Regions from separate parts of the Homo sapiens genome. Here region 2 is reported to be linked to region 1. The links are microRNA targets in miRTarBase. Many come from high-throughput screens and were not tested one by one. Region 1 holds a microRNA gene; the other region holds the end of a gene's coding sequence.
What was found. The annotated mature microRNA hsa-miR-449b-3p reads CAGCCACAACUACCCUGCCACU and lies in region 1 at 1,225-1,246, opposite strand. An mRNA with a match to its seed (bases 2 to 7 or 8) in the 3' UTR can be bound and repressed. Matches are read on the target gene's strand: a 7mer-m8 pairs with bases 2 to 8, a 7mer-A1 pairs with bases 2 to 7 and ends in A, and an 8mer does both.

Region 1 (3,000 bases):
AATACTGCATGTCTGGAAGCCAGCACATATCTATGCTACTTCGTGGGTCAAAATGCCTCCAAGGTAATGAGAATATATTTAAGGTCATATTGTATGGTCAGTTCTTCCCACTTCACAAGTTGTTAGATCTCATGCTGTCTTCCAAATATTTCATGAACCTGTGATTTTACAGAAAATGAAGTGAAAGGATTGAGGTAGATCTTCCAAAAAAATGTAAACCATCCCCCACCCAAAAAAAATCCCCAATATTCTTGATATTTCAAGTGAAAAATGTTTTAGTTGACTGACTCATCTGGAAAATTACCTCAACTTTCCCTTCAGTTGGTACACACACAGTCATGGCTATAGAAACCAATTCTAATGCTGTATTTAGAAACTAATGATGCAGAGGCCGGGCGCAGTGGCTCACGCCTGTAATCCCAGCACTTTGGGAGGCCGAGGCGGGTGGATCACGAGGTCAGGAGATCGAGACCATCCCAGCTAACACGGTGAAACCCCGTCTCTACTAAAAATACAAAAAAATTAGCCGGGCATGGTAGCAGGCGCCTGTAGTCCCAGCTACTCCAGAGGCTGAGGCAGGAGAATGGCGTGAACCCGGGAGGCGGAGCTTGCAGTGAGCCGAGATCGCGCCACTGTACTCCAGCCTGGGCGACAAAGCGAGACTCCGTCTCAAAAAAAAAAAAGAAAGAAACTAATAATGCAGAAAGAATCCTAAAGACTTCACTGAAAATCTGGGGACACATTGTAGGTCCATTCCACATTGTTATTACATTCTAAACCTTATAGTTAAAAACATGTAATTTCATAAATACTTAAACACTGTCTACTCCGAAAGACTCCAAAGACTCCAAAAATATTTCTTAAAAATTTTTAGTTATGGAAAAGCAGGCATAAGTAAATTTTTCTTAAAAGGAAAAAATTTAAGTAATTGTAATACTTTCCTTACCATTATAAAACTGTGCATTGTAAGTATTACTGTATTATAAGCTAATGGCAATAATATATTATGGTAAATAGTGGCTTGCTTCATAGCAGAAAGTACACATAAACACACACTAATTACAGATTCAGTTACACTCTGATGTTCATTGTATATGCAATAAGACAGCAGTTGCATGTTAGCCGATGCCATTCACATATTCAACCAGCTAACAATACACTGCCAGCTCATCACACACAGGTATCCAGAGCACTTCATTGACAAGAAGAATTTATCCAGAAGCAAGTGGCAGGGTAGTTGTGGCTGCTGACTTGACCCAAGCAGCCAGCTAACAATACACTGCCTACCTGATTCAGGTCACTGCCGATTCTCGTGGCCCAGGCAGTCACTGAGGCTAAATTTGTAACATGAAACATAGTGGCAGAACTCTAATCTTAATAGTCACATTAAAGAAAACTTATACACAAAATGTATTACTTCAAGACTATAAGAAATAAAATCAATATTTGCTTGAATCTAGTCAAAAACATAAAAGTTAAACAAAAACTTTAAAACTTTCAGAATACTTACATTTAGGTTTTCCAAATTAAATGCTTGGATAAAAATATGTTCTACAGTACAAATGAATTTTAAAAGTTACTTAACTGTAGGCTGGGCGCAGTGGCTTATGCCTGTAATGCCAGCACTTTGGGAGGCCAAGGTTGGCTGATCCCCTAAGGTCACAAGTTCAAGACCAGCCTGGCCAACATGGTGAAACCCCGTCTCTATTAAAAATACAAAAATTAGCCCAGCGTGGTGGTGCTGCCTGTAATCCCAGCTACTCAGGAGGCTGAGACATGAGAATCACTTGAACCCGGGAGCTGGAGTTTGCAGTGAGCCGAGATTGCACCACTGCACTCCAACCTGGGCAACAAAGTGAGACTCTGTCTCAAAAAAATAAATAAAAAGTTACTTAACTATAGCTTTTCAAATCACTTCTGTTTACTGATCCAAAGACTACTTGTCTGTATTAGACAGTAAAATATCTAGGAGTCGTGATAATACATAAGCTGTGCACGACACAAAACTGCAGCAGTGTTTGGGGGAAAAAATCAACATTAAAGTATTTAAGAAATGTAAGGGCTTAAATGCAATTAGTTTTCTCCTACTAGAAATGACATTAGTAATCGAGTTCTGAAAATGCAATTATGTATTCAATATAGGATGTTACCACTTGAATACTGAATTTTTTTTTTTAAGAGGCAGGGTCTGGCTCTGTCCTCCAGGCTGGAGTGCAGTTGTGCAATCATAGCTCACTGCAGCCTTGAACGCCTGGGCTCAAGCAATCCTCCTGCCTCAGGCTCCCAAGTAGCTGGGACTACAGGCACATGTCATCATGCCCAGCTAATTTTTGCAGTTTTTTTATAAAGACAAGGTCTCCCTGTGTTGTCCAGGCTGGTCTTGAAGTCTTGGCCTCAAGTGATCCTCCTGCCTCAGCATCCCAAAGTGCCGGGATTACAGGCATGAGCCACAGTGCCTAGTTGCAAAATTTATATAAGATCTAGAAAAATCTATTAAAATGGTGGTGGATTTGGAACTAGAATCTCTGCGTACAGGTCAAAGGAAGATGAACTATTGAGCCTAGAGAGAAGCATGGTAAATGGTGACAGAGATTTAAAGCAGATGAAGGCTCTTTATGAAACACGTTTATAAAACCATTTAAATTTGTTTCCTTTTACACTGATTACAGGAGACACTAAAGACCTTTGGGTTTGGTCTTTCAAGGAGAACAGGTACTACATTGGATCAACTTTAAATTGCTCACGTTAAGAACCATGGTTTATGCCACTTCTCCACATTGTCCACAAGATGGCACCATTTCCATTTCTTTGGGGGGCGTGCTTCTGAATGCAACAGAGAGGAGTGCAACTAGCAACTGTTAAAATCATTAACAGCCGCTAGCAATACACTGCCTACCTGACACATCCCAGCTTTATCCTTTGCTGTGGAGGCAGAAACTAGAAAGTACGATTCAGATGCAAACGATTGCATTATTTGTCTGGGATCTTCAGTTTCATAAA
Region 2 (3,536 bases), not on the chromosome of region 1:
AAGTGATTCTCCTGCCTCAGCCTCCTGAGTAGCTGGGGCTACAGATGCGCACCACCGCGCCTGGCTAATATTGTGTGTGTGTATATTTTTCTTTTCTTTTCTTTTCTTTTTGAAAAGGAGTTTCGCTCTTGTTGTCTAGGCTGGAGTGCAATGGCACGATTTCAGCTCACCACAACCTCTGCCTCCCGGGTTCCAGCGATTCTTCTGCCTCAGCCTCCCGAGTAGCTGGGATTACAGGCATGCATCACCTGGCCCGGCTAATAGTAGAGACAGGGTTTCGCCATGTTGGTCAGGCTGGTCTCGAACTCCCGACCTCAGATGATCCACCTGCCTCGGCCTCCCAAAGTGCTGGGATTACAGGCATGAGTCACTGGGCCCGGCTAATTTTGTACTTTTAGTAGAGATGGGGTTTCACCATGTTGGCCAGACTGGTCTTGAACTCCTGACCTCAAGTGATCTGCCCACCTTGGCCTCCCAAAGTCCTGGGATTACAGGTTCATTCTTATATTTTCTAAGAAGACAGAACAACAGGAAAAGTATGAATTCAAAGTCAGAGTTCTGAATTCTTTTATTATTTTATATAATTTTCTTTTAATGAAGGCGAGAGAAGAAAGAGGAGCATTTACTTTTTTTTTTTTTTTTTGAGATGGAGTCTCACTCTGTTACCCAGGCTGGAGTGCAGTGGCGCAATCTTGGCTCACTGCAACCTCTGCCTCCTGGGTCCAAGTGATTCTCCTGCCTCAGCCTCCCAAGTAGCTGGGATCACAGGAGCACGCCACCAGGCCTGGCTAATTTTTGTATTTTTAGTAGAGACGGGGTTTCACTATGTTGGTCAGGCTGGTCTCGATCTCCTGCCTCGGCCTCCCAAAGTGCTAGGATTACAGGTGTAAGCCACCGCACCCAGCCTATGTATATTTTTAAATTAAAAAACAATGGCTTTAAATGTAGCAAGATGTGTTAAATACATATTTCCTATATATTGAGACTAAAATCTACAATTCTATTTGTCCAACGTTTCAAAATTAGTGTGTCTATGGAAATGTAATCAATTACACAAGAGTTTAGGTATGTTAACTTAATTTGTACTTACCTAATTGGTGATATATCACAATATACCACTATATTGCCATCTGATTGGTGATAACAACTAGATGGTGATAAAAATTAGATGGTGATATAGTGGCATATTGTCATGTGGATGCTGGTGAAAGTTACCATAGATTGGTAAGAATTTTTTTTTTTTTTTTTTTTTTTTTTTGAGACGAAGCCTCACTCTGTCACCAGGCTGGAATGCAGTGGCGCAATCTTGGCTCACTGCAACTTCCGCCTCCCGGATTCAAGTGATTCTCCTGCCTCAGCCTCCCGAGTAGCTGGGACTACAGGGGTGTGCCACTACACCCAGCTAGGTTTTGTATTTTTAGTAGAGATGCGGTTTCACCATGTTGGCCAGGATGGTCTCGATCCCTTGACCTCATGATCCACCTGCCTCGGCCTCCCAAAGTGCTGGGATTACAGGCATGGGCCACTGCACCTGGCCCAAGATCTTTTTTTTTTTAGACAGGGTCTTGCTCTGTTGGGGTGGTATGATCACAGCTCACTGCAGCCTAGACCCACTGGGGTCAAGCCATCCTCCCACCTCAGCCTCCTGAGTAGCTGGGACTACAGGCATGCACCACCACATCTTTATCTTTTTTTTTTTTCTTTGTAGAGACAAGGTCTCACTATGTCTTCCAGGCTGGTCTTAAGGGATCCTCCTGCCACCTAAACCTCCTAAAGTGCTGCAATTAAAGGCATGAGCCATTGTGCCCAGCCTGATTGATAAGATTTGGATCACTTAGCAAATTGTTTCACAGTACAGGAATTTTTAAAGAATAGTCTGCATTGACCAGGCAAGGTGGCTCACGCCTGTAATCCCAAGACTTTGGGAGGCCAAGGCAGGTGGATCACCTGAGGTCAGGAGTTCAAGACCAGCCTGGGCAACTTGGCAAAATCCCACCTCTACTAAAAATACAAAAATTAGCTAGGCGTCATGGCACGTGCCCATAATCCCGGCTACTCAGGAGGCTGAGGCAGGAGAATCACTTGAACCCAGGAGGCGGAGGCTGCAATGAGCCAAGATCCCGCCACTGCACTCCAGCCTGGGTGACAGAGTGAGACTCCGTCTCAAAAAAAAAAAAAAAAGAATAGTTCGCATTAATATACTGGATTAAAAAGTTTAGTTTAGATAATATTCGTTTAAATTATGGTATCTCATCAGGCCAAGATAAGAACAAAACCGTTTAACTAAAGTACCAGAATTGTGAGTCAACCAATTGTGCTTTTTTTGGAATTAAATCAAGTATCTTCATATTATTACCAGATAACCTAATGTATCAACTTGTTTAGAAGATAATTTCAAGACTAGTATCTTAAAAAAAATCCCAGCTAGGCTGGGCTTGGTAGTTCATGCCTGTAATCCCAGCACTTTGGGAGGACAAGGTGGGCGGATCACCTCCTGAGGTCAGGAGTTCGAGACCAGCCTGGCCAAGGTGGAGAAACCGTCTCTACTAAAAGTACAAAATTAGCCAGGCGTGGAGGCGCATGCCTATAATCCCAGCTATTTGGGAGGCTGAGGCAGGAGAATGGCTTGAACCTGGGAGGCGAAGTCCACGGTGAGCCGTGATTGCACCATTCCACTGCAGCCTGGGCAACAAGAGTGAAACTCTGTCTCAAAAAAAAAAAAAAAAAAAAAAAAAAAAAAAAAAAAACCAGCTAAAACATTATTTTAACAAAAACAAAATTTTGGCTCAACATGGTTATGCAACATTCAGTTATAATAGAAACATGTTTAATTATGGAGAGTAAAACAGAAACGAGAAAAAACAGGTATCATCCATGTATTTTATATTCTTTTCTAGAACAACCAATCTTTATTAGAAAGTTGTAGTCACGTTTACAATAAATATCAACAATATAATGAAAAAGTAGAACAAATTAGTTTCCAAATACTGAACTCCTGTAACCAAAACACATTTTGGATTTGGGAAAACACAGTAAACACATACCAAAAACACAGCCACAAATACCAAAAACAAAAACCAGCTCAAGTATAGGATTGAACTGGCTGGAAAACACTTATTGTGTTACTGCCTTAAGAACCCCACGGAGCACCTTGTAGCTCATTAACTGCACATTTTCCTTAGGGGGGAAACAAGGTCCTCTCTCAGTCACATATGCATAAGGAAATCTCAAAACCCAAAGGCCATCAGGTGGAAGGGTGATTTCTTGTTTTTCTGGGTAGAATACCGGACATGGTGGTGGGCCTGGCTGAACCTGAAAAACACAGGTAGTATAATTATTTTCACATTTCTCAATATGAAACAACTGAAAGATAAATGCCTAAACAGACGATAGGTTCAAAGAACATACAAGGCCAGACCTGGTGGCTCACGCCTGTAATTCCAGCACTTTGGGAGGCTGAGGCAGGTGAATCACGAGGTCAGGAGTTCGAGACCAGCCTGGCCAACATGGAGAAACCCCATGTCTACTAAAAATAC

Region 2: miRTarBase lists SMG8 as a target of hsa-miR-449b-3p. Seed matches in the 3' UTR shown: 7mer-m8 at 3,054-3,060.

The regions. Positions count from the first base shown.
Region 1 is chr5:55,169,443-55,172,442 of GRCh38, forward strand. It overlaps MIR449B (microRNA 449b), which reads right to left and starts at 1,300; the gene lies at 1,204-1,300. All of the region lies in intron 2 of CDC20B (cell division cycle 20B), which reads right to left. It overlaps MIR449A (microRNA 449a), which reads right to left and starts at 1,180; the gene lies at 1,090-1,180. It overlaps MIR449C (microRNA 449c), which reads right to left and starts at 2,911; the gene lies at 2,820-2,911.
Region 2 is chr17:59,214,581-59,218,116 of GRCh38, reverse strand. SMG8 (SMG8 nonsense mediated mRNA decay factor) reads right to left here. Exons shown (of 4, transcript NM_018149.7): 4 at 2,887-3,312. The coding sequence ends at 3,115. Among named protein-coding and RNA genes, the nearest start is that of GDPD1, 4.2 kb to the left of the region's middle.